Regions from separate parts of the Homo sapiens genome. Here region 2 is linked to region 1. Evidence: fine-mapped expression QTL. A gene starts in region 1. The other region holds a variant in brackets. All regions are shown on one strand. Distances are between the middles of the regions.

What was found. PIP is the estimated chance that this variant, and not a neighbour inherited with it, causes the effect.
Region 2: its variant is fine-mapped to the expression of NIPSNAP2 in lymphoblastoid cells (GTEx, PIP 0.96).

The regions. Positions count from the first base shown.
Region 1 is chr7:55,958,996-55,968,168 of GRCh38, reverse strand. It overlaps NIPSNAP2 (nipsnap homolog 2), which reads right to left and starts at 3,584. Exons shown (of 10, transcript NM_001483.3): 1 at 3,468-3,584. The coding sequence starts at 3,559. RefSeq lists enhancers at 2,542-3,275, 3,845-3,924 and silencers at 3,045-3,524, 3,585-3,694.
Region 2 is chr7:55,093,411-55,103,874 of GRCh38, reverse strand. The region is part of intron 1 of EGFR (epidermal growth factor receptor); the gene reads right to left. Among named protein-coding and RNA genes, the nearest start is that of EGFR, 80 kb to the right of the region's middle. The variant C/T (reference allele first, on the strand shown) is at 5,572.

The DNA.
Region 1 (9,173 bases):
GGATTAGGAACCAGTCAAGGTTTGTGTCATAGAGATCTTTCTACTAGGAAAATGTCCGCTTAGAATTCTTTAGACGTGTGGCTGGGCACAATGGCTCACACCTATAATCCTAGAACTTTGGGAGGCGGAGGGTGGGAGGACTGCTTGAGGCCAGGAGTTTGAGACTAGCCTGGGGAACATAGCAAGACCCCCCTCTCTACAAAAAAATTAAAAATTAGCAGCCGGGTGTGGTGATTCATCCCTGTAATGCCAGCACTTTGGGAGGCCGTGGTGGGAGGATCACTTGAGGCCAGGAGTTTGAGACCAGCCTGGGCAACATGGAGAAACCCCATCTCTACTAAAAATACAAAAATTATCCAGGCGTGGTGGTGCACGCCTGTAAGTCCCAGCTGTTCAGGTAGCTGAGACAGGAGAACTGCTTGAACCCAGGAGGTGGAGGTTGCAGGGAGCCGAGATCACGCCACTGAACTCCAGCCTGGGCAACAGAGTGACACTCTGTCTCAAATAAATAAATAAATAAATAAATAAATAAATAATAGCTGGGCATGGTGGTGTGGGCCTGTAGTCCCAGCTACTTGGGAGGCTGAGGTGGGAAGATCCCTTAAGTCCGGAAGGTCAAGGCTGCAGTGAGCCGTGGTCATGCCATTAAACTCCAGCCTGGGCAACAGGGCAAGACTATCTCCAAGGAAAAAAAAAAATTCTTTAGTCATCCCCTTCACTAACAGGTTCGAGCCCACACTCTTCGTAGGAATCCAGACGAGTATTGCTGAGGGTTGAGCTAGGGCAGTGAAGATGGAGAGGGTGGATTCAAGACATACTAGAGGCAGAACTGACAGATTTGGTAAATGATAGATGGCGGGAAAAAGAGGGATGGGCTTGGGGAAGACCATCTGGTGTCTGGCCTGGGCCACCACATGGAAAATGTTTCATGACTGGAGAAGAACAACCAAAGAAAAGCAGGCTTCACAGAAGGAAGAGGAGTTAAATCCTGGGTACAGCAGTGTTTTAAGCACCTGTGAGACACTTATGCAATGTCCAGGAAGCGGCTGGGAATTCCAAGCTTGCTGCTGAGCAGCACTAAGTGAAATACGCTGGCTAATGTACAGGCAGGGATGAGGCTCCCGGGAGGACGCCCTTCTCCCTTGCTGAAACTGATTCAGCAAATCCTGTTTTCTTCTGTCATTTTACCTAACACTTTGGCAGCGGATGGCACTCCCTCCCTCCTCCTGGCCACTGCCACATAACAATGAGCTTGCCAGCTCCCCCTCCTACATTCAGCCTATATACGCTGCACATCCCAGGACTTGCTTTGCAGCCCCTTCTCTCTCCACACTCTCGCCTCAAGCAATCTCACACATTCCTATATTTTTTTGTTTGTTTTATTTTGGAGACAGGGTCTGGCTCTGTCACCTAGGCTGGAACGCAGTGGCATGATCTCGGCTCACTGCAACCTCCACCTCCCAGGTTCAAGCCATACTCCCACCTCAGCCTACCAAGTAGCTGGGACTACAGGCGTGTGCCACCATGCCGGGCTAATTTTTGTATTTTTTGTAGAGATGTGTTTTGTCATGTTGCCTGGGATGGTCTCGAACTCCTGAGCTCAAGCGATCAGCCCAGCTCGGCCTCCCAAAGTGCTGGGATTACAGCCTGAGCCACTGCACCCGGCTTCCTATGGTTTAAAAAAAGTTTCATTATACAAATTTTTATTTATGTACTTATTTATTATTAGGGACAGAGTTCCACTATGTTGCCCAGGCTGGTCTCAAACTCCTGGGCTCAAGCAATCCTCCTGCCGCAACCTTCCAAAGTGCAGGGATTACAAGTGTGAGTCACTGCGTCCAGGCTTTATTATGAAAAACGTAAATCAAATACGAAACAGTATAATGAAATCCATGTGTCTATTAACATTTAGCATTCCTATATACTGACAACTCCTAAATGTTACCTGTAGCCCAGACACCTCCTTTGAGGAGTCATACTGCCAACTGTCTGTTTGCGTTTCCACTTGAATAGCACACAGCCTTCACAAACTTTACCAGGTCCTAAACTGCTCTGAATTCTTCTTCCCCAGCCCTCCTGAATTACTGGTAAGCTCCGGATGGCCTTGGACGCCTTATTCACTGATGTCTCTCAACAGTCAACAGTGCCTGGCACGTGGTAGGCACTCACATTTTGGCAGAACAGCTCTCTGCAAACTCTCAACTCTCAGTGCCAGGGTCCACTCAGCTGGCCACTACCCTTAATTCTGCCCCCTCTCCCAAGTCAGACTCATCTTTTTAAAAAGATCAGGCCGCGCCTGGTGATTCACGACTGTAATCCCTGCACTTTGGGAGGCCGCGGCAGGTGGATCACCTGAGGTCAGGAGTTCGAGATCAGCCTGACCAACATGGTGAAACCCCGTCTCTACTAAAAATACAAAAATTAGCCGGGTGTGGTGGTGCATGCCTGTAATCCCAGCTACTTGGGAGGATGAGGCAGGAGAATTACTTGAACCCGGGAGGCGGAGGTTGCAGTGAGACAAGATCGTGCCGTTGCACTTCAGCCGGGGCAACGAGAGCAAAACTCCGTCTCAAAAATATAAATAAATAAACAACAACAATAATAATAATAATAAACCATGTTACTGAAACCTCCCTGGCCCATGGCGAGTTTAACACACAGTTCCTTAGGTAATTTAAACTACCCAAAGCAATGAATACGAGAAAGCAACTCTGGGTAAGTCAGGATAGGCTTTGCTGTTTGAATGTGGAAAACAGCACATGCAAATATCAAGGTGATGAATTTGGACAACCAAACGTCCAATCCACTGAAGTTAGAAAAAAAAAAAAGTTTAAACAAGAGCCCCACGCCTGAACTTAGTGCTGATAACTCTAAGTACTTTTAGATCCACGGCCGGCTTTAAATTTCAACTCCAAGACGTTAAGTGATTTGACCTCCTCCAAGCTCTAACTTCCCCTACGCTCCGCGGAGAGCTGGCCCGGGACAATGCTTTACTCTTTTATTCCCTACTCCCGGCACCTCAGAGACCAGGGTCACCAACGTCCTCGGCAGACGCAGCCACTCAGGCTTGGAACAGCCTCCGGCGAGGACCCAGCAGACGGCGTCCGGGGCCTGCGGCCTCAGGCGCGCGCTGTCCCTGTCCCTGGCCACGGGTCGCGCCGGTCAGGGCCCTGCAGGCCGGGCCAGCGCCGCGGGGAGGATGTGGCCTCCGGGCCAAGCCTCGGGGGCCTTCCCGGGCGAGGGTGGAGCCGCAGAGCGGCCCGTCCCCTCCGTGACCTTGAGCCCGAGGACGCCCCGACCCCGCCCCAGCTCCGGCCCCACCCCAGCTCCGGCCCCACTGCCCCGAGGCCGGGCAGCCACCCGCGCTGGGGACAGGGCCGGGGCGGAGACCGGCGCCGGGAAACCCGCGCCCTCCGCCTCGCGGCGGCCCCTCCCCGGCACCTCCCGGGAAGGGCGGCGCTGCTCACCGGAGCCTGGGCAGGAGGCTGCAGGGGGCCGCCCGCTGCAGGAGGCCGCCGGCCCAGGCCGCTCCGCGGGCGCGCAGCACTCGCGCCGCCATCTTGCTCGGCGCCTCGGCTCCCACCGCCCGGGCGCCGCCGCTGACGCCGCCGCCGCGCGACCCCTCCCCCGGCCGGGCCCCAACGCGGCCACTGCAGTGCGGGGCGCGGCCGCCAGGGGGAGCAGGGCGCGCGGCCGCGGGGGTCGGCGGGGCGTCCAGGCGCCAAGGCCCGGCCGCTGCGGGAAAGCGCGAAGCCCAAGCGCAGTCAGTGCAAGCCGATCACTTCAGCGGGAGGAGCTCGGTGCCCAGAAGCGCGGGTGCAGAAGGGACAAGGGCATAACTTCAATGATCAGGGAAAACTCCAAAAGGAAAGAGTAACACTGTGCCTAGGGGAATCCAGGGCCTGGGGCGGGGCAGTGGCAGTGGGTTTACCCCCACCCCACCCCGCCAATGTCTTTTAAATTTTGTAGTATATGAATATATTGTCATTTCAAAAAGCCCCACAACGCTTTAACAAGTGCATTCTGGGGCCGGACGCAATAGCTCACGCCTGTCATCCCAGCACTTTGGGAGGCTGAGGCCGGAGATCTCTTGAGGCCAGGAGTTCGAGACCAACCTGGGCAACATAGCGAGCCCTCACTGTGCAAAAACATTTTTAAATTAGCCGGGCATGGAGGAGCACGTCTGTGATGCCAGCTACACTGGAGACTGAGGCAGAAGGATCGCTTGAGTTCAGGAGGTGGAGGCTGTAGTGAACTATGATCGTGCCACTGCACTCCAGCCTGGGCAAACACACGACGTCCTGTAGCGAAAGAAAGAAAGAGAGAAAGAGAGAGAAAGAAAGGGAGGGAAAGGAAGGAAGGAAGGAGAAAGAAAGGAGGAAGGAAGGGAGGCAGGAGAAAGAAAGGAGGGAAGGAAGGAGAAAGAAAGGAAGGGAGGGAGGCAGGAGAAAGAAAGAAAGAGAGAAAGGAAAAGAAAAGAAAGCAAGTGAGGAAAAAATTAAAAAACACCATACACACACAAAAAAAATTAAGGAGAAAGGACTGGGAAGGTTCTCTTGAGGTCTTGGGACTGCATCGTTCCCATTCATTTCAGCACCGGTGGGCACTGGCCATGGGGAGTCCTTGGTACCTTACCCTCAAGGCCGTCTGGGTCTAGTGGGGACAGAATGTACAATGATGATTGGACCGAGTGTGTTAAGTGTCAAAATGGACAGGTTCATGAGACACGAAAGAGGCACGGAAAGAGAGCATGTAACCGGGGGTGGCTGTGAATTAGAGGATAGATGGGGAGAAAGTTCTCCAAGGAGCTGGCAGGACATATCAGTCCCAGGGGAAGAAGGGAGGGCATCCCTGTCTTGAGGAAATAACTTAAGCAAAGGCGTGGATCTGGGTGGCTGGCGCTATAGAGGGAAAAATGTGTCCTCCAGGAAGATTTTTTAAAAAGCCACAAATGAGCCAGGCACGGTGGCTCACGTCTGTAATCCCAGCACTTCGGGTGGCCGAGGCGGGCGGATCACCTGAGGTCAGGAGTCCGAGACCAGCCTGGCCAATATGGTGAAATCCCATCTCTACAAAAATACAAAAATTAGGCAGGCATGTTGTCGGGTGCCTGTAATCCCAGCTACTCGAGAGGCTGAAGTGGGAGAATTGCTTGAACCTGGGAGGTGGAGGGTGCAGTGAGCCGAGATTGTGCCTCTGCACTCCAGCCTGGGCAACAGAGTGAGACTCCATCTCAAAAAAAAAAAGAAAAGAAAAAGAAAAAAGCCACAAATATAACCATGAAAACTGCAACCAAGGTGAGGGCAGGAGGAAGGAAGCTGGACCCTGGGGGTGGGGGAGAACCTGGGAGAAGTAGGGGCTCTGGCCACCAAAGGGAGCATTTCCAGGCCAGTGCGGGGCTGCAGAGGCAGAGAGGAAAGTGCCCTCAGGACTGGGTTGCTTGGAGGTCATAAGGTGGACAAAAACTGGGAGGTTCCCTGAAGCTGGTAATCTTGGGGGCCAAGGGAGCATCAGGGCTCAAGGGGTGCAGTTTTCTGACTGGGGTAGAATTTGAACACGTTAATATGGCAAGGAGCCACCAGGGAGGACAGAGGTGGACCCTGTGGATGGAGGAGGGCTTTGCCCCAGAGCAGGGAAAGGCACCTGTCCCTTGGAGGCCAGTGGGATGGAGGCCAAGGGACACAAGGATAGGAGGCCAGAGGCTGTGTGGCTGAGGACCTCCTGGCCTCAACTAGTGTATGCTTAGTAAAGCTGTGGAGAACCCTGTAAGAAGTACTTTTTAAGTGGTCCATTTTCAGAAAACAGACAAGTCTGGGCAGTTCCCTTGTGGATGTGACAAGATGCACGGGTACAGACATCTGGGAAGAGTGATAAAACTCACAGAAGTCAGAGGGGAGGGAGAAAAGTGGCAGGGGTGTCTAATCCATAAAAGGAAAGAAAGCTTAGCCATTGGGAAATCGAAACTTCAAGTAGGGAAGAGGACAAGATGTAACCTAATAAGGGGATAATGGAACTTAGGTGATGTCCAGGAAGACTGCAACCCCATATTACTCAGCCTGTGAGGAACTGGGGAGGGACCTGTGCTCTAGGGGATAAATTGTTGAAACTGCACTGGGTGTGCCTGCCCATCACACATCCGATCTTGCAAAACCATTATTAAAAAGTCTTACTTTTGTCCGGGTGCGGTGGCTCATGCCTATAATCCCAGCATTTTGGGGGGCTGAGGCTGGTGGATCACCTGAGGTCAGGAGTTCAAGACCAGCCTGGCCAACATGGTGAAACCCCATCTCTACTAAAAATACAAAAATTAGCCGGGTGTGGTGGCGCATGCCTGTAATCCTAGCTACTCGGGAGGCTGAGGCAGGAAAATCACTTGAACCTGGGAGATGGAGATTCACCTGGGAGGTGATCTCAGCTCAGCAATGAGCTGAGATCGCACTGCTGCACTCCAGCCTCAGTGACAGATCAAGACAGACTCTCAAAAAAAAAAAAAAGTCTCACTTTCACTGTTCTTCATGCCTCTAAGTCCATTCTTTGGGTTTGAATGGGTGAGTGTGTTTCTCACACTCCAAAGAGAGGCAGAAGTGAGCTCTCTCCAGGGTATCAAGGACTTGGCCCAGCCCTACAGAGCAGGAGGCCAGGCCTCTTTAAGGGTGGATGAGCTCCTGTGACTGTCACAAATGCCCCCAATTTCTCAGCTCTGTTTCATGAGACACCTGCTTTTAAATTTATTCTGAAATATAAACTGTAGCTAGACACTTCTTTGCTGACCTTGCTTTTGTGTTTAGTATTAGCCTGCTTAGCCTGCATTGCTTTTCTCCACTATCATTTTGTTGTGGAGTTCCATTCACTCAGGACTTTTTACTGGGGAAAAAGAGGGTACTCTGATTTCACAGCTGTGTGGCTTCAGATATTTGAAGCCATAGAATAAACATAGCAAGTCTTCCTGGAGCATAAGTTTTATACAAAGACTCTCAGGAAAAAGTATGTGTTAAAATATAAACAAGTATCATTTATATGTTAACATTTCAGTGGTACTTAGGTATAATTTATATTTTAATACTTCGATGGTACTTAAGTATCATTTCTATTTTAATACTTGAATGATACTTAGGTATCACTTATATTTTAATGCTTCAATGGTACTTAGGTATCATTCATATTTTAATACTTCAATGGTACTTATACATCATTTATATTTTATTTTATTTTTTATTTTTTTGAGATGGAGTCTCACTCTTGTCACCCAGACTGGAGTGCAGTGGCACGATCTTGGCTGACTGCAACCTCCGCCTCCCAGGTTCAAGCGATTCTCCTTGAGAATCTGCCTCAGTCTCCTGAGTAGCTGGGATTACATGTGTGCACCACCACGCCCCGGCTAACTTTTGTATTTTTAGTAGAAATGGGGTTTCACCGTGTTGGTCAGGCTGGTCTCCAACTCCTGATCTCATGATCCGCCTGCCTCAGCCTCCCAAAGTGCTGGGATTACAGGCGTGAGCCACCACGCCTGGCCATCATCATTTATATTTTAATCCTTTGATGGTACTTAGGTACTATTTATATTTTCACATGCTTTTAATTTTATATTTATACTTTAATACTTCATTGGTACTTAAGCATCATTTATATTTTAACATATTTATAAATGATGCTTATTTATAAATGTTTAAATATTTAAACCTTTAAAATATTTTAGAGACGGCTTGGACTCCATCCCAGAGCTGGTGACACATGTGTCACCATATGCTAGGAGCACCACTTGGAGACGTCTGATGCTTTATTTTTAATTTTTTTTTTAATTTTAAGTTCTGGGATACATGTGTAGAACATGCAGGTTTGTTACATAGGTATACATGTGCCATGGTGGTTTGCTGCACCTATCAACCCATCATCTATGTTTTAAGCCCCATATGCATTAGGTATTTGTCCTAATGGTCTCCCTTCCCTTGCCCCAACAGGCCCCGGTGTGTGATGTTCCTCGCCCTGTGTCGATGTGTTCTCATTGTTCAACTCCCACTTGAGTGAGAACATGCAGTGTTTGGTTTTCTGTTCCTGTGTTAGTTTGCTGAGAATGATGGTTTCCAGCTTCATCCATGTCCCTGTAAAGGACATGAACTCATTCTTTTTAATGGCTGCATAGTATTCCATGGTGTATATGTGTCACATTTTCTTTATCCAGTCTATCATTGATGGGCATTTGGGTTGGTTCCAGGTCTTTGCTATTGTAAGTAGCGCTGCAATAAACATATGTGTGCATGTGTATTTATAGTAGAATGATTTATAATCCTTTGAGTACATACCCAGTAATGGGATTGCTGGATCAAATGGTATTTCTGGTTCTAGATTCTTGAGGAATCGCCACACTGTCTTCCACAATGGTTGAACTAAGGTGATCTTTTTTTTTAAGCTGCTTATTAGTGATATGTACTCTCAAAGCAAAAACAGCCAAGCATGTTATTTTCACAGATATCAGACTACACAAGTGTGTTTTCAAAATCTCTGGTTACTCCTTGGGTTTCTAACCCTTCCCCTCAACTGTGTAGATGGTATTCTGGTGTTTTCTTGAACTTTCTATCACAGAGAAAAAGCCAGGGTCAGTCTGATTTTCATTCAGTTCTAAGTACTTTTCTCAGATCCTGGAATGGTTTGAAGTTTTCCAGCATTTCAATACATATTTTGCCAGGATATGTCTATGTGAGGATCTCTTTTTATAGAACATGATTTTTCTAAAGGTCAAGAAAAAATGTTTTCTATTTCTTTTTTTCATTAGTTTGTTGTTTTTGTTCTACTCTATTCTGAAAAATGTATTATATTTATATTGGAGTTTTAAAATTCAGTCTCACAGAACTATCATTCTCGTTACTTTCATTTCTTTATCCTTTTCCTCTACATTCTTAGAGAACTTCTGAAGCGTATTCTTACTATCACTGATTTGACTTTTCTTTTCTTTTTTTTTTTGAGACAGAGTCTCGCTCTGTTGCCCCGGCTGGAGTGCAGCGGGGTGATCTTGGCTCACTGCAACCTCCGCTTCCCAGGTTCAAGCGATTCTCCTGCCTTAGTCTCCTGAGTAGCTGGGATTACAGGCGCGCGCCCTCATACCCGGCTAATTTTTGTATTTTTAGTAGAGACGGGGTTTCACCATTTTGGCCAGGCTGGTCTCGAACTCCTGACCT
Region 2 (10,464 bases), 860 kb after region 1:
ATGCAGCATCCTTTATTCTTAAACCAGAGATGATGAAATCTGTATGAATAGTCACATGTCATGTCTGGTAGGCATAGGTTCAAGTATATATAAGGATGTGACAAGGAAGAAACAGTTTCCAGAATATTTAAGAGTCTTTTACAGGTCATATTTCTACAGACTCTTATGTTTGAAAGAATGTGGCCCAATGTGGACCATCCAATATCCAAACACCCACGACATCATTCTTTGGTTAGATTTAACTACCACCACCCACAGGCACATCATTCCCTCCCTAAGCATTACCCTTCTGTAGCTCCTTCTAGACCAGCTTTCTTCCTTAGCTTGTGCTTTAAATGAAAATCTGCCAGCTTTTCACTTAGTCTCTGAATGCAATGCTGCAGGTTCATAAATGGTGGATCACATTCTGTAAGGGTATCTTTACAAAAGTATATTACAGGGTGTTAGGAAGGGAGATATATTTGAAGACATATTATGGTTATGCACTTCTGCAATGAGACTGTCTAGTTAACTAAACCATAATATTAATTAAGAAATCAGTTTAAAAAGCAACCCTCCCAAATCCCTTTCCATGTATTAAGCACACAATTCAGATTTGCTCAGAGAGGACACACACTGAAGGGCTTGCAGAGACTGGGAAAGGTCATCAACTTCATAAATGGATGCTCTCAAAGTTCACCAACAGAGGATGCCTCAAAGAAGGGGAGGACATTCGGAAGCAGCTCACCCTCCTGAGGAAGAAAATACTGAAACTGCACTAAGAGTTCTGATGCAAAAAGATAATTCATGACCCATATGGGGAGTCTATTCTTATATCTTTCTCCATCTTCCCAAACTCCCCAAACTTCTTCAAAGGAAGAAGAAACTATACAGAAGTATTTTTAAAATCTACAGAAGTCAAAGCACGTGGCCTTCTTATTACATTGTCTGAAATGTTCCTCTTTCAAAGATGTTAAGGACTGCAGAATCTGCAAGATTTAATTTTTCCCTCTCCTCCATGCTTTAAACAAAATCTGATTTCACCATCTAGCTAGGTATATCAACCAACAGTTACATAGTGTGCCTCCTGAGAATGTTTATCAGGAGTTTTAAAAAAATTTTTAAAATTTCTATTTAAGATATATAAATGAACAGATACTTAGATAAACATACACATTATACATGTGGTATATAAATTTCATTGCTTAATTCTGACCCTAAAGAGTTGAAAAATGTTTTTTCCAAAAAGCATTTTGACGCAAACATCAGGGGAAAACCATATATTGTTAACATTACTTTTGGTAAAAAAAATTGTTACATTGTTTTGCTGAAATCTTATTCTTTTGACGAGCTGGGCCACCAAGAAGCAGCAGACGCTGCAGTTCAGTGTGCATGTCCAAGTCCAGTTCAACTTAGTGAGTGAACAATATGCAAAGAGCAATGTGTTAGCTGCTTTTAAAGCAGAGTTGAGTTAGACATAGTCCTTCACCTGGAGAGCATGGCTCAGGTAAGATGAGCCAGACAGACCAGGAGAATGTGGAGTGGAGTGCCCTGCTGGAGGTCGAAGGTGGCTGGGGTTCCTGGAGGGAGCAAAGCCATCTGGCTGAGAGATGGGGAGAGGAATTTGGAAATGTCCTTGGAGATTAATCTTGAGGGGCAGGTGGGAATCTTTCCAGTAGGGGTCTTACAGGTGGGAGTGGGGAGCTGAGGCTCTGGGTGAGGGAAGGTGGTGATGAGTGGGGGTGGGTCACATAAGTGGGCTTCTGTGGAGCACAGGGACCTGCAGGGCAGAGGCAGGGAACACGTTCAGAGAGGTTTTCAGAGCCACACAGTGACAGGCTTTAATGCCAGAGTGACAAGTTTGATGGAAACTGAGGGTTTTAGTCAAGAGAATGTCATGATCTGAGCCGAGCTTCGATACAGAGTTTCCCGACATAGCACAACCTCTTCCCCTCACCACGTGATCCAAGGCTTCTGGGCTGCGTGGAAAAGGGATGGGAAGAAATTAAGTCAAAATTGCTGAACCTCCGTTGCTCAACCTTAGAAAATCCTAGAATACACAGTATGCTGTGGAGAACTGTTGACAGGCAAACTTGTTCTAAGTTTCAAAATGGGAAAGAAGATGGAGATATTATAAATACCTATCTCAGGAAAAAATATAGACAGTTTAAAAAAGTTGCTGTATGTGCATGTACAGACAGACTTGTTACTCCTAAATGCAGGTCATGTGTGGCTAACCTGTTTCATAGCTGGGCAGTACTACAAAGCGGACAGGTCAGGGCAGCAGCCTCAGCCAATGCTGTGCCCGGACGCAGCATGTGCGGCAAGTTTCTCCTGATTCAACTGCACCTTAAAAGGAAGTATGCAGGCTGGCTGATAGGATTTCATGGATTCGTGACAGGTTAAAAAAAGCACAGTGATAAGAGGATGGATTTCTCAGTAGGTGAGAATTAAAATGGTGTTAAAATACAGAACTCAGCCTCGCTCCACATCCTCACGGTAATTCAGTAAATAGAGCGACAGAAAGAACACGGGGAAATGCTGGAGCAGAACTGTGTCTGTACCGATGGCATATCACATCTGAGTGTACCTCAGTAAGCTGGAAGGAAGTGCTGAGAACAGTAGGAACTGCAAAAGGAACAAATGACGAGGACTTAGGTCCCAAAGCCCAGTGACGCAAGCGTAAAGTCTGGTGGACAGGACAGGGCAGGCTTCCTCGAGTTTCCAGTCTTCCTGGATACCTTCTGCCCGGGCCCCTTGTTCACATCTGGCAGCCCTTGCAGAGGTTGTCAGAAGGAGCAGAGTTGTCAGAGGGTTGCTCGGAGGAGGCTGCTCAGCCGCGGGAGGAGAAGAATCAGCTGTCTGCAAGCCCAAGGCCAGCACGAGGAGAAACAGTTTTGTGTGGTGGAAAAGCACCAGGTAAAGGTGAGGCAGGGACGCCGACACTGGTATTCACAGCAGCAATTTTTTATGACAGTTTAAAGAAAAATTGTTGGAACTGTCAAAAAAATGGAGCATATTGCCTCTGGCAGTGGCAAGTTCCCTGTCATCCAAGTGTTCAATTGACTTCAGGGCCCCGCCAGCCCTCCAAGACTAACAGTGATGTGTGACGTGAGGCTTGGCAGCTGACTCTGGATAGAGCCTCCGAGTGGCTCAGGTGGCCGGCTTCCTGTCTGCGTGTCCCAGGAGTGGCCCACCCCAAGGACGGCGTGTGGAGATGACAATGAGGCCTTGGCAGGCGTGGGTCTCCAGCACGGTGCTCCACCCAGGGCGGAAGTGGAGGTCCCCTTTCAAAGCCTTGGGTGACCACAGCTTTGAGCAGGGTCACTCTGCAGTAAACAGCTGCAGTAGCTCTTAGATAACTTAGAAAACAGACCTCTCGTAGGGGAAGAATTTCCTGCAGACATTTCTCCCTCGAGGGCCTCCCACCCACCTCAGAGGCTGCACCCAAATCCTGAGGATCTGGCAAGAACCATGTTTTTGAGATGTAATTAATACAACTGTTTACACACAGCATCTGCTGGGGCAGAGATGGCGGTTGTGTGCAAGCCACAGCTGTGATTGGAGCAATCTGATGACAGTGAGCTCATGGTGTCCCCAAGGAGGCCTTTGTGAAGTGCCTGACATAATTAAAATTGGGAGGAAAACTAGGTCAGGTGACCCAGGGTGGTTTAGGTGAAAGGGCTTCAGAGCTCCCAGCTCTGCCCATTCCCTGGGCACTGTCAGGCATCGTAGAAAGGATGCGTGCTGAAAGGCAAAGCCACCACAGTCTCCGCTGAGGAGCAGTGCCTCAGAGATGCTGAGAGATGCTGCTTTCCATTCAGAGTGGCCACCACTGACATCTCTGACAAGACTGGCGGCAGTCTGCTGGCTGGGTCTCTCAGAACAAAAATTTAAAAAAGGATTGAAACCATAAGATGCAGCCCCCCTTGTATTATCTGTAAACACCAGCACATTTGATGCATCGGTTCTGTCTCAGATTTCAAATTCAATTCATTAGCCTATCCTTTTCCATTAAAAAGTTTCCACTTACAGTGTTGAGAATTGGGCCCCTTTCTTTTTTTTTTTTTAATTGCACATCTGTTCACAGAGGTTGGCAAAAGACACTGGAAGTGATTGTGAAATCCACATTGTGATTCCTCAGGAATCAGATCCTAGAAGGGGGTGCCCAGAGCTGTCGGCACACCGTCCCAGGAGTCTGCCTGTGCAGCTCCCAGCCAGGCAAGAAGCCCTGAAGGCAGAGTCCCAGGTGGACACAGCTGGACGCCTCTCTGACAATGGTGGCTCTGGTGGTGAACCCCTCGGTGTCTCTTCTGCACCTCTCAAGGCTGCAAAGTGCCAAATACTCTTTTCCAACCAGCTCCCGAATTCCCCCCTCCATCTGGGACTGCATGTCCTGCTTAGCGATTTCAAGCAATGATTTCACCTTTTCATAGACAAGGACATTGTCCTCATCAGGGCTTGCACCATCACTCTGATTTCCAATGCTGACAGCCAAGTGGAGGTTTTTAATTCTTAAAAGAATGTGGCATTAAAAAGAAAAACTCACCCATCTCATGGTCTAAAATAAAGCAAAACAAGTCAGATGGCTCTGCCTAACCCAGCACAGCATCTGTTACATAATCTGAAACTTCTGTGTAATTGAGTGAGATGTGGGAGAACTCAAGCACAGTCTTTGTAGCATTCTGGGCATGGAATCCTGATCCGTTAATTCCAGAGACTGAATCAACAGAGGAACACAGAGAAAGCCACCACCACGATGTGTGAAAAGGAGAGATACGAGAGAGCACACAGAGGGCTGTTTTAGAAATTGATTTTCATCTTCTGTTTGAGGCCCTGGGAAAAGAGTGAGAGAGTAGAGGGAAAACATGGACGTTTATGAAGAGCTGCCAGAGGCCAGGTTCTCATCACTTTCCAGGGCCTCTCAGGAGAGGCCACCTGAGGCTCCTGTCTGACTCCCCACTGCTTCGAAATCAGAAGACTCGGGGAGTCAGAATCAAATCACTTAATTAGCTCACAGACAACACTGGACACCTTTTAGGGTTTACTGGTTCACATACTATTTCAACTACTTTGTTGAATCTTTTTAACAAGTGGAGGAAACTGAAGCCTTGAATCACAAAAGGCTGGCAGTGTGGAGGGCCAGGTTTGCCTGTTCTTACTATCTGTTTGATGACAAGACAAATTAGTTATTTTATTTTTATATTGCCGGAGTAACTTGTTCTTTGAAGCAAAATTAGAATTATAGATAAGCAAACAGAAAAAATACTTAACAACAATATGCATACAGTACTTATATTTCTCAGGATTCTTTTTATGCATACGTAGTAAACAGGTATATTTATTTACAAAAGTGAGATTTTACTGCACATAATTTCTGATGCCTTAAGGTTTTTTTTTCATTTAACAACATATAGTAAAGTTTTTTAAAGCAAATATTTATCCAAAAATACATTTTACTGGCTGAAGAGTATTTCATTCTATGGAGTTGCCATCACGTCTCTGAGCAGTTCCTGACTGTGGGAAGGTCATGCGTGCTGTCGGGTCAGACCACCCTCAGGAGAGAGCAGTTCTCCCCAGTCCCCCTAGCCC[C/T]ATCCCTGCCAGTCCTGGCTGCCGAAGGCTGCAAATTAGTTATTTGGAGAAACACAGGCTATTTAGGTTTTGAAAAAATCAGTGAGCTTTCAGTTTCTAACGAAGCTACCAACACCCTCATTTTTTCCCTGTCTTTATGGTCTGCAACCAGATGGAGGCTAAGGATAAAGATTATTTTCTCCATCAACTACACTGTCAGGCAAAGCAACTCTGGGGTCTGTATGAGAGGAAATATGGATTTTATTTATGTTAGCAGTAGTTACTGTTGTGAGGCACTATTTGAGTATTTTTCATTATATTTTAATTTTTTTGAACTTCCTATGATAAAACCATCTACACTTTTCTAAGTAGGAAAAATAAGGGAATGAGTGTCATGTTTTTAAAAATTTGGGGAAAGATCAAGAGTACAGAAGAGCATGGGGCAAAAAAGAAGTTTAGGTGCATTTAGGTGACATCAATAAAGCCCAGTTCTTTTTTTTTTTTGACAAATGGGATCATCCTATAGACATTGTTAGGCAAATTACAGAATCTATCTGCGCTGTCCCTAGTTGGGCACAACATGCTCCATGGCAATCTGTCTTGCTGCTGTGCAGTCCTTCCCTGGGTGGCTGCAGGGGCAGACACAGGGTTTGTAGGTCCTGGGTCTTATAGAAATCAGGTACAAAGTGACACGTATATTTAGAAGGAGAAATTGCACAAATGAGACAAAATGTTTTCCTTATGCAAATTTCATAATATAAATTATAGACACTGCCAGTGCACTGTTAGGACTCCCAGGGCCTTGGAAGGGGCTTCAGTATTATTGGCTTTACAATAGATCTGGTCCAGGTGAATGTGCGATGATTTACTTCTCCATTTTCTCTTTGATGGATATTTGGGCTGGTTACAGTTTTATTGTTTCCTATTAAAAAACACTGGGGAATAAGTTTTATGGGGGAGGATTTATCAGCTGAGGTTACTATTGCGATGACTGTGTGACCTTCCCTTCCCCTGTAGATCTGAGAGCATCCAGGCCATTAGGCAAGGAGGATAGAGGAGGCTGGGATTCTGCGTTCCAGGCAGTACTGCCTTGAAGAAGTGCAAAGACACCACCAGAATCACCTGGGGGTGCTTGTGAAAACTGCAGATTCCTGGGCCGTGGAACTGGGGCAAGGCACAGAAATATGTATTTTGACAAACATCCTCAGTGGCTTCCTCACAGGTTAGAATTCTAGAGCCAGTGACTTGGGCTTCAGAAAGAGCACAGGTATGCAGCCTCGGGCAAGCCACAATTTCAATTCAGTCTCCTTACTAGGGAAAGGGAGCCAGGGATATGCGTGTGGAGGACAGGTGAGGAGCTGGGGGGGTAAGGAACGGACAGCACTTTCATTCCACTACTGTAGCTGCATTCCCCAAGCACATGTGCTAGCCTCTGTATTTTAATATAGAACCTCGGCTGCACCTCCCATGACTCCAGGAGGGACCCTGTGCCCTTCCCTGGCTCCAGCAAGGGCACAAACCGCTCTGCGCCTGCGCCCCTGCAAGCTGGCAGGGGCTGACAGGTGCTGTGGCAGGGCCTCTGCTGCAGCGTGAGGGAGCCATGGGTGGGGAGTTTCTTTTCAGTGGGACCAACACGTGTCCACTTCATAAAAGTGGCCGTGCGGCAGTTCCCACAGGGCTGCGTGGCCGGGAACTCCTGGTCAGTCACTTTATTTCAGAGTGGAAAAACATTTTGGCTTCCTAGATCCCTGAGATCCTGACACTTCCTGTCTTCCTAGAAGTAAAATGGCCATAAACAGAACTTATCACAGGTGACCTCTGGCATCGTATCCCCATCGCCTGATGTTATTTTTACAAGGCAGCCGAAAAGATAGCAGGATTTCAAATCTGGCCCTGCCGTTCTGCATTGCATGTGCAGAGGTCTAGTCCACAGGCCGCCACAAAGTTAACTCAGCAGCAAATTTAAACACATGGGGTACACATCACGGAATTCTTAATCATGACCAAGCACCTGGTGAACACAACCGGAGAATTAAAAATCTGAGGTATGTGTATCAGTGTGCCTGAGAAGATTTTGAAGAGAAAAGGCTTAGGTGGGGTCTGGGAATGAGGTAGAAAGGGCTGCAGTTGGAGCCAGAGGGCCTGGGATACGCTTTTGTGCTGAACTCACCTCAAATCGAATCTTCACTTTCTCTTCTATAAAAAGTGGAGAAAAACAAGGCTTCTTTCACTCCTCCTGAACTAGCTAATATTACTTTATCTTTATCTCTTTCTCCTCCTGAACTAGCTAATATTACCTTATCTGCACGTGTGTGCCTGTGTGTGTCTGTGTGTCTCTGTGTGTGCCCGTGTCTGTGTGTATGTCTGTCTGTGTCTGTATCTGTGTCTCTGTGTGTATCTCTGTGTATTGTATGTATGTCTCTCTGTGTGTGACTGTGTGTATCTCTGTGTGTTGTAGGTATGTCTCTGTGTGTCTGTGTGTATCCCTGTGGGCTGTGTGTATGTCTCTCTGTGTGTGTGCCTGTGTGTATCTGTGTGTCTCTGTGAGTGTGTCTCTGTGTGTGCCCATCTGTGCGTATGTCTGTGTGTGTGTGTGTGTGTGTCTGTGTGTATCTCTGTGTGCTGTGTGCGTGTGTCTGTGTGTATTTCTGTGTATTGTGAGCATGTCTGTGTGTAACTCTGTGTGTTGTGTGTATGTGTTTGTATCTGTGTGTGTCTGCATGCAATCCTTTGAGTCTATAATTAATTCTCTCATTGCACATATCAGAGAATTGTGGTTCTAAAGGCGAAACTGGCCCACACTCCCAAGCTGCCCTGGGCAGGGAGCTGTGTGTTGAACCAGGACTGTCTCTCCCAAAGGACAGGGCCTAATTCAGGACCCACTGAAGCAGCTTCAGTAAAATGACTGTGGCACGCCTGCCTGTGAGAAGGCAAATAATGACAATGACAGTAATAACTGTCAACCTCATTGGGCCACTCTCCTCACTTAATCCTCACAACAGTCCAGTATCTTCCCCACTGTACAGAAAAGGATGCTGAGTTTTGAGAGGTTAAGTAACTTGAGCTTTTGAATGTCACATGGTGGAGGGCCAGTCGGACAGCAGAGAAGAGGGAAGGTGACCTGGCTTGCAGGGTTGCTCTGTGTCTTGCGGGACCTGCAGCTTTTCCAGCTTTTGCACTTAGACCAGAGCCCTGCAGGAGTGGCTTGGGCATGAGCTGTGCTAGCGTCAGGGAGAATCCACCTCTGTGTCCTTGCTTTCTTTAAAAGATGAATCTTTTAATCACTTTTATTAGGAGAAATAAAAACCAGCGATAAGAGAGCCCTGACATAAGGCTGCCGGTGCCAGGGATCACCTGGGTTCAGCACCTATGGAGAGGTTTATGGTTGCCGCTGCTGCACTGGGGCCTAACTGCCAAGGTCCAAAATGGTCCAAAATGTTTCTGTTAAATTGTTTTGGGTCTTTCTAGGTTTTAAGAAATATTTGTTTTACCTGCAAAAGAGCAGGATCTGTCTAGAGTCTGTACAGTAAACACAAGTGAAAATGTAATCCCATATCAATTAAGATGTATAGAAATACACCTAAAGCACTATGTATTTATTTCTTTTTACCCTACTTCTCTCAAAGTGGATCTGTGATGTCCATGTAAATGCAAAGTCTTGGAGTATCCAGCATATGTGAAAGGAGAAGTTAGAAAGGAAGTTGCTGGACTGTCTTGTCGTAAATTCCTCTTCTTGTTTTCACTGTGGACTCCTAGTAGAAACCCATGACCCAGATGTTCTCACTCCCTCCTCTGAGGTCACCTGTAATCTCCAACTCAAGGACTCTCCAAAAATCTGTGGATCAACTGCCTACATCTTAGGCCCTTGAAAACGTCTGGGCAACTGCGTCTCCTGACAGGATAGGCCAGTCTCCCCAGATGATCAGTGGGTGGCAGGAGGCTGCACAGTGAGGCCCCCCCTGCCCCCCGACCTGGCAGCCCACAGCTCAGGAAGAGTGCTCTGCAGGCTGCACAAACTTGGCTCTTGCACCAGGCAGCTGCGTGGATGACAGACCAAGAGCTATCTCTCCCAGGATAAGAAGCTGGATGCTGGGTGAAGCCAATTCATTTTTCTCCTCATCAGTCAGTGGAAACTCACTTCCACAGATTGATTTCCAAAGGAATAAATGATATCACCAGATGTCATCCTGTCAAGCAGCCCCCTTCAGAAAAAACTTTTCCTTGGTAATGGGGGAAATTTGACTTCAAGGAGGCAGTACACAGCTGTGTACAATGGGTTTCATCTTTTTACGTTACACACGCTCTACTGTGAGTTCTCAGTGGCTGCACTTCCCATCTCGCCTGCAGCTTTGCCACCATCACAACATAACTGATGCTTTACGAGGCCAATTTCATAGTGTCTGCTGGCACCTCTGCACTCCCTGAGCTACCAGTGACAGTTACGACAGGACCAGCTGGCTAAGCACCTGTGGCATCCAGGCATGATTCAGGCAGCCACACTGCCCGAGAGAAATGTATGGAAGTGAGACCTCGGATCACAGACTAGTTTCATCTCCCTAAATTAAGATAACTCCTTGCAAAACTAAGACAAAACAAAATGCCATCCACCAGCTAAAAGTTTCCATCAAAATTGGAATGAGTCTAAGTGCAGTTTTCACCTCAAAAATGACTTCCTTGTTATTTACAGTCCACAGATATGAACAGAAATGACCATTTCTATGAAAGAAGATTTTATGATAGGAAAGGACAAGGGAAGTAGGGCTGAGGCGCATCACGGTCGGGAGAAGGTCCTCATTCTGTTTACCATCACTGAGGACTGAGACGCGGGGCGAGCGGTGGGGAGGGAGGGCATGAATTCGCTCACACAGTCACCATGCCATTCATTGCTCACTCTACGATACTGATTTTTGGCTA